2 linked regions of the Homo sapiens genome follow. The protein of the gene in region 2 purifies or fractionates together with the protein of the main gene of each other region. This does not show direct contact. Each region holds a gene or a part of one and is shown on either strand. Other genes may lie near its edges.

Evidence for each region. Proteins that work in one complex are often made in the same cells at the same time.
Region 1: the proteins of KIF13B (region 2) and DCP1A purify together in Homo sapiens (affinity purification with mass spectrometry, with the first as the bait; one large-scale study listed by BioGRID). This does not show direct contact.

Annotation. Positions count from the first base shown.
Region 1 is NC_000003.12:53,313,044-53,316,543, forward strand, and holds part of DCP1A (mRNA-decapping enzyme 1A), read right to left. Parts: intron 1-3,500. UniProt on the Homo sapiens protein: Necessary for the degradation of mRNAs, both in normal mRNA turnover and in nonsense-mediated mRNA decay. Removes the 7-methyl guanine cap structure from mRNA molecules, yielding a 5'-phosphorylated mRNA fragment and 7m-GDP.
Region 2 is NC_000008.11:29,066,778-29,071,070, forward strand, and holds the end of KIF13B (kinesin-like protein KIF13B), read right to left. Parts: intron 3,990-4,293; coding exon 3,727-3,989; 3' UTR 501-3,726; downstream 1-500. UniProt on the Homo sapiens protein: Involved in reorganization of the cortical cytoskeleton. Regulates axon formation by promoting the formation of extra axons. May be functionally important for the intracellular trafficking of MAGUKs and associated protein complexes.

The DNA of each region.
Region 1 (3,500 bases), on a different chromosome or scaffold from region 2:
AAGACACAGGAAGGCTGCATAGTTGAACAAATCCTCTGTGGAAAGTTTGGATTGACACTGGGCTAGCAAGGACAAAGTCAGTTCTTGAAAATAGAGGTCTTGGTGAATCCTTAAAAGTTAGTAACACTATAAGCAAATAAAAGGTTTCCCTTATTCTCCCTTTTAAAAACCACCAACTTAGCCTGGGCAACTTGGCAAAACCCCGTCTCTACAAAAAATACAAAAATTAGCTGGGCGTAGTGGTACACGCCTGTAGTCCCAGCTATTTGGAAGGCTGAGGTGGGAGGACTGCTTGAGTCTGGGAGGTAGAGGCTGCAGTGAACTGAGATCACACTACTGCACTCCAGCCTGGGTAACAGAGTGAGACCTTGACTCCAAAAAAAAAAAAAAATCACTAAGTGGGCTTTCAGTTTTTAAGAACACCCCCTTCTCCCTTGTAAAGAAAGATCTGAAACAATTACAGCAAAATATTAGGAACTGAAAGCTGGGTGGTAAGCACATACATATTTTATTATTTCCTATATTTTTCTTCAAGCTTTCAAGCTTGAATAATAAATTTTAATAAAGCAACTTTTTTTGTTTTTTTTAAGATTCATTCAGGCCAGGCACAGTGCTCATGCCTATAATCCTAGCACTTTGTGAGGCTGAGGCAGGACGATCACTTGAGCCCAGGAGTTTGAGACCAGCCCAGGCAACATAGTGAAACCCTGTTTTAAAAAACAAAAAACCCAGCCTGCACAGGAGCTCTCATTAGAGTGTGGGGAAGAGGTGAACAGAGATGGCTTTTTTATTTAAAAATACTGGGTTAAACAATATTAAACCGACTTAAAAAAAAAGAAAAAACAGAATCCTTGAGTTTTATTATTATTTTTGTAGAGATGGAGTTTGATATGTTGCCCTGGCTGGTCCCAAAACTCCTAGTCTCAAGTGATCCTCCTGCCTCAGCCTCCCAAAATACTGGGATTAAAGGCATGAATTACCACAACCCACCCATTGAATTTTTGTTTGTTTGTTTTATTTATTTTTTTATTGTACAGACAAGGTCTCACCATGTTGCCCAGGCTGGTCTCAAACTCCTGGCCTCAAGCAATCCTCCCACCTCAGCCTCCCAAAGTGCCGGGATTATAGACATGAGCCACCACAACTGGCCAGTTGATTTTTAAGCATGCTAAAATTTATTGTGATTCTCCAAGAAGGGCAGGCCTATAGATTTTCTCAAATTTTATTTGACTATAGAATTTTACTCTGAGGTAGAATTCCTGTTTGGAAAATGTGGCTTTAAGGTAACATGTAGTTTTTCTATCTAGATTCATAATTATAGCTCTTAATAAGACTATTACTTCTAAAACAAATGTAGCATCATGAGCTTCATGGTAGACTGAAAGACTGGTATGGGATATGAGAATAAGACCAAACATGAATTGTTTATTTAATGCTCAAATATAGGCCACATCAGCCTGAATCCATCTTCATAAAGGATCTGTCACACGGCCTGTTTTCCACCTACCTCCTGACATGTTGCCTGACTTGGCCATGCTGGTATTTAACTCTTCCCTGACCCAGACTAGGATCTGTGATTCTGTGATTATTTTGGTTTAAGAGAAGAATATTTCTTTTCTTTTTCTTTTTTTTTTTTTTTTTTTTTTGAGACAGAGCCTTACTCTGTCACCCGGGCTAGAGTGCAGTGGTGCGATCTCGGCTTACTGCAACCTTCGACTCCCGGGTTCAAGCGATTCTCGTGCCTCAGCCTCCCTAGTAGCTGGGATTACAGGTATGCACTATCATGCCCGGCTAATTTTTGTATTTTTAATAAAGACAGGGTTTCACCATGTTGACTAGGCTGGTCTTGAACTCCTGACCTCAAGTGATCTGACCACCTCAGCCTCCCAAAGTGCTGGGATTACAGGCGTGAGCCACTGCGCCCAGCCAGAACAGGTAATTTTATAAAGCTCACCACTGCTGAAAGCAGAAGCTGTCGGGGGTGGTAATGGAAGGGACTCTCACATAAACGAGGCTTGGACTCTAAGGCCTCTTCTAATCCAAACTTTATGGATAGCACTCATGCCATTCTCCTTTCCTTTCAAACACCAAAACCTACCCCTAAGATGTCTGTAAGATCAGGAATAAAGCTTACTTCCATGAGTTCTCCAAAGTTTACATAGTCTATGTGGCCAAACCGTCAAACAACTTTTTATTGTTAAAAAGAGTTTCTGAGGCCGGGTGTGGTGGCTCACGCCTGTAATCCCAGCACTTTGGGAGGCCAAGGTGGGTGGATCATGAGGTCAGGAGTTCAAGGTCAGCCAGGTCAAGATGGTGAAACCCTGTCTCTACTAAAAATACAAAAATTAGCTGGGTGCAGTGGCAGGCACTTGTAATCCCAGCTACTCGGGAGGCTGAGGCAGGAGAACTGCTTGAACCCAGGAGGGCGGAGGTTACAGTGAACCCAGATCACGCCACCACATTCCTGGGTGACAGAGCAAGACTCTGTCTCAAAAAAAAAAAAAAAAAAAAAAAGAGTTTCTGGCAGACTGGATTTCCTCTTTAGGAGAGTCAACAGCTTCTAAGTTTAGTGGGTTTTCAACTCTGCCACCACTGACCAGAGAATATACAAATTTAGATGACATAGGGTCTAGAAGCTCACTCATTTTCCTACATAGTTTCTCGTTTTTATAAACATTGTTTGGAGTAAATCAGTTTGTTGTTTTTTTTTTTTGTTTTTTTTTTTTTTGAGACGGAGTCTCGCTCTGTCGCCCAGGCTGGAGTGCAGTGGCACGATCTTGGCTCACTGAAAGCTCCGCTTCCCGGGTTCACGCCATTCTTCTGCCTCAGCCTCCTGAGTAGCTGGGACTACAGGTGCCCGCCACCATGCCCCGCTAATTTTTTTGTATTTTTACTAGAGACGAGGTTTCACCATATTGGCCAGGATGGTCTCGATCTCCTGACCTCGTGATACGCCTGTCTTGGCCTCCCAAAGCGCTGGGATTACAGGCGTGAGCCACCGCGCCCAGCCTGGAGTAAATCAGTTTTTTTACTTGGAGGATCTTTATTATATTGTGGCTGTCAAATAGTGATGGGAAGAACTGTATTTAAAAGAATGGGCACTGATGGACACATTTATTTATATGTATAATATACTAACAAGAACTGTGCTAGTATTTTTGGATAGTAGAGGTGATATTCTCAAATATGTAGCAAACAACAACAACAAAAAGTAACAAACAGGTTTATGCAGGCAGATTTAGAACAAAGACAGATAGTCTTCTTTAGTTTTGGTGACCAGAGAGGCATTTATCACAAAGTTAATGGTAACATACAATATTCTCTTCAGCTATAAATAGGCCAGACACTTAAAACTCATTATCAACAGTTTCACCAGGGTATTCTCTAATCACTTTTTTTTTTTGAGATGGGATCTCACTATGTTGCCCAGATTGATCTTGAACTCCTGGGGCCCAAGTGATCTGCCCACCTGGGCCTCACAAGTATTATAGCTGAAATGA
Region 2 (4,293 bases):
TGCCCACCTCTGCAGCAGGGGAAAGAAGTCCTCTCACCCCAGTTTGAGGGGAGAGGGGAGGTCCAGTGTGGGGACCAACACGAAGGTCACAGCAGACAGTGGAGTCATGCCTGAGAGCCAAGGAGAGTCCCTACCAGGTCACCTGTCTCCCAGTAGCACCACTTACCTGGGGTCGAAGGGCCCCAGAAAGTTTCCATGGTTCCTGGCTTCAGTAAGGGGCTGAAGTCCAAACAAGGAAAGATGACTCAGAACCGGGGGGCCTCCTGGGCTCTTAAGTCCAAATCATGAAGAGTTCAGCCTCTGAAGTCCATGGGCTGGGGAGGCGAGCACGGCCTGCTGCTGTTCCCTGATCCTCCTCCTCCCAGTCTCAGTCTGGAAAAGCCCCGCACCACCTTTGCTGAGAACAAGGCCACACCATGACAGGATGGCCTGCCAGGAGCCCCAAAACCCTATGTTGGGGTGAGGGGAAGGAGAAGCAACAAGACTGGCCTCAGACATGATGCAGGTGAGAAATGGTCTGGTTTTATTGAGAAGCTGTTGGTCATTTGATGGAAAGACACATACGGTACAAAATTACAGGTGGTTTAGTTCATTACATGATACAAATCATTAGAGTCTTTACAAGTCATTAGAGTCTTTGGATTTTTTAAACTCCCATTTACTGTGTACCAAATCAATATAATCACAGAATCAAAGTCACTTCTTTATATGTGAACTCTTCGCATTTACACGAATCCACACATAGAGAAGCTGTTCCAAGACCCCCCAACACCATTAGTGTCTGCAGCCCACCAGGAAGGCACCACGGACTTTGTGGAGAGAAAGATGCTTTGGGGGTTCAATGGGTCAGTATCTTGGGCAGGAAGCACAGGGTGACTCCCGTCTTGTGTGCGTGCGCACAGCCACCAACACACACTCTCAGGACTTCCCGTTTCACATACAGGGAACTTTTAAGGCAAGAGGAGAAAATGCTAGGAAGTAACGGGGGATCAGAACTCCTCCACCTCTCAGGCTCCAGCAGTCACATTCCCAGCTCCGTTCTCTTGTTGAACCTTGGTAGGCCCAGAAACATCTTCCCCCTCCTCACCTCTGCCCTCCCGCTCCCTCTGGTCAGGCCTGGGTACCCAGGAACCCAGTCACACACCTGCCCCCTGTCCCCTCTGCTGCTGGACGCAGTGCCCGGGGCAGAAGTGAGCCTTCTCACCCTGGAGCCTCAGTCCTTCATAAGGGCCCGAGGGAAGTGGCGGGGTGGGGCCAGGGATGTTCTGGGCACACAATGGGGAGGCAGGGCCCCCAGAAGCATCCCCCACCCCCATCTCTGACAGCGCCGCGTGTGCAGTTACTGCCCTTCCCGGCCTTGGGTGCCATCTGCGGGCCGACCCACACTAAGGTGCCACTCCTGGGGCCTTCCAGGAGCGCATCGGGAGTCCTAAGGCGGGTGGGCGGGCAGGCGTTCTTGGGAGGTGAGTCTGCTGGTCAGGGAGGCAAGAAAAGAAGATAGAAGACGGAGGCCAGCCCGCCCTGGCCCACCACTCTGGAGACCGCACCTCCTGCCTGCCAAGTGCTGGCCCGGGGTCAGCGGGGCTCACTGCCTTGGTGACCACGTCACTGCACATCCCTCTTTCCCAGCCACAAGCTGACATTAGTCCGCACCGAGAAGCAAGAGTGAACAGGGCCTGGGCCCAAATCCACCTGCTCAAGTCAGGAACTCTGGCTCGTTCTACTCCACTGTAAGTCAAACCGATGGTAAAAAGCACGACACACACGTCCCCCAGGACTTTCCCAAGATGGTGCTACAGGAGGCCGCTGCTGGGTGGATGGCTCAGCCACCACGAAGTGCCAGGTCCCACCCACGCTGCCCGTCCGCCACCATTCCCAGAGCGTCCCCACTACACGGCCCAGGCGTTTCCCCTCAGGGCAGCAGCAGTGCTGGCCTCTCACCCAGGCCATAGTGACACCAGCGGACCCAAAAACAAACTTCTCAGTGAAACAGGTTTTAAAAAGAAAGCCGCTGTGCTGGGAAGCGGGTTGAGTTAAAGGGCAAGGCAGAGGTGACAGCTCTTCATCCAGGGACAGGTGCCACAGGGTTCCCTCAAAATCGGCTAAGGACAGGGAGAGCCCTGGAGGAGTGCCTCCCCCCAGGGGCCGGGCCCTCTGCCAGCCCGGCCGCAGCCTTCGTGTCCCTCGCCAACTGGGGAGAGAAAGACAACCTGTCCTCGCAGCCAGGGCTGGGACAGGCCCACCATGGAGACTACTCTGTTGGCGCCTTCAAGTCCCTAGAGAACCAGAGCCTTCCGCAGCGCTTTCTAGATGTTGACTAAATGTGAGAACTAGAAACCAGCTCCAAGGGTGGCTGTGTGAATCTTGACCCAGGACTCCTGTCCCTAGATTGGTGGCCTTCCACACATAGACGCTAACCCCCATCCCACAAACCTGGCACCAAAGGCTCTGGGAGCATAAGTGCCCCAGCCAGGAGGTGGAGGCCACCCCGGAAGCTTCCGGCTGTCCCGCCCACACCATGCACGGTGGGCCTGGGGGCGTGGCTGCTGTGAGGGTCTGGAGACTAACCAGCACACTCCCTGCACCAGCCCAGCCGCCAGGCCCCAGCCCCACACTCTGAGAGTCTGGGAGTTGCCGAGAAGTTAAAATGACCCAAAGACCTTCCTAGAAACCAAAAGTGCACCAAATAAAGTAGCAATGCCTCTTCCTTTGTCACCGACTACAGAAGCACATCATTCTCCCAGGTTTTTGCTCTCATCCAAGTTAAGAGTAAGGCCACTGTGGATCCGCAATAGAGGGATGTGAGGAGGGGGCTTTATCCTCTGCCGTCCCCAGGACCCTCCACCTGGGCAGGAGGCCAGCAGCTCTGCAATGGCCAGAGAGGCTGCAACGTGCAAGGCAGGCCCTGGGCCCCCCCACACAGGCAGACGACGATTGCGGCTCGCAAATGATTTCGGATTTTGAAAAAATAAATATAAATAAATACATTCCAAGCCTTCTGTGAAGGGAATAAACGGCAAACATAAGAGACTTTCCAGGTGTCTAAAGATGCCAAAACATCCACAGAGAAACCGCTAAGAAACCCTGGCAGAGGAGGGATGGGGGGGCTCAGGCCCTCGGCCCCCGTCTGGGGCACCAGGACCATCTGCCAGAGCCCAGGGCCCTCCAGAGGCACTTGTGGAACCTGGGACCAGGGTGGGAGGCTGGGGGGTCCCCCAGAGGCACTTTGCGGGAAACTGGGACCAGGGTGGGAGGCTGGGGGGCTTGCGGAGTGAGCCAGGACATCCTGGGTGGGTGGGGGGGCTTGCCCTCCAGTGGGGAGGAAAGGCACTGGTTACAATTATGGTTTAGGTTAAGACATTAGTGGGGCCACCAGAATGGAAATGATAGAAAGAGCAACATAAGGCCCCAGGCACAGGCACACAGCAAGATCACCAGGCGCTGCACCACCCAGGGTCTCAGTCCTAGCATCCCCCAGCCCCTGCGGGCACCCAGAACCTTCCATCCACCTGAGGAGGCACAGTTGAGGCCCCCACTTTACCCGGGTACAGAAGAAACAAAGCTTCCAGAGGCCCAGGGAGGTCACCAGCCCTGTGTCGTGCAAAAAGCATTCATCGCCCTGCCCCTGGGGAAGGGGCCACCGGGCTCCTGGCTCCTCAGGGCTGTCACTGGCAGGGCTCAAAAGGGGCCGGGCACCCCCAGAAAAGTTCGCCCTAAGGCAGCGGCTCAGCTGGCCCAGGATTTCCGGTTCTCAGGGTTCTTGTGGCTCCTGTCGGCCTTGGCCAGGGCAGCTGTCAGCGAGGCCAGGTTGGTGGCGGAGCCCGAGAGGGTGGCGCTCCGGCGGGCCTCGGGGGCACCCAGCCGGAGTCCTGTGCTGCGCCGCCGCACAGGGCCCGTGGCCCTGCGGACCCGGCTGGGCCTGACCAGCAGCCCGTAGCCAGGGTTACACCTGAAGTACTGCTTCCCGCCGATGGAACCGTCATTCTTACCTGCGGGGGAAGGAGAGGGTGATATGGAGGGCAGCCGAGCTGCAGACGGCCCCCTGCACCTCCCTTACCTCTGCAGAGGCCATGTGCCCACACTGCCACCCCCCCGCACAGGCCCTACACAGCCAGCACTCGGACACTGGCCATTGTCTGGCAGGGACTGGCTAAATGAATGTGGCCAGGGCCTGGGGTGACCGCCTCCCAGGACAGTGAGCAGTGGTGACCAAGGATGCACAGCCCCAGTCCTGCAGCCTCAGGTAGGAGGTGACAGGCCCTGGGGGCCCTGGGGAGTGCCTTGTGGAAGCAT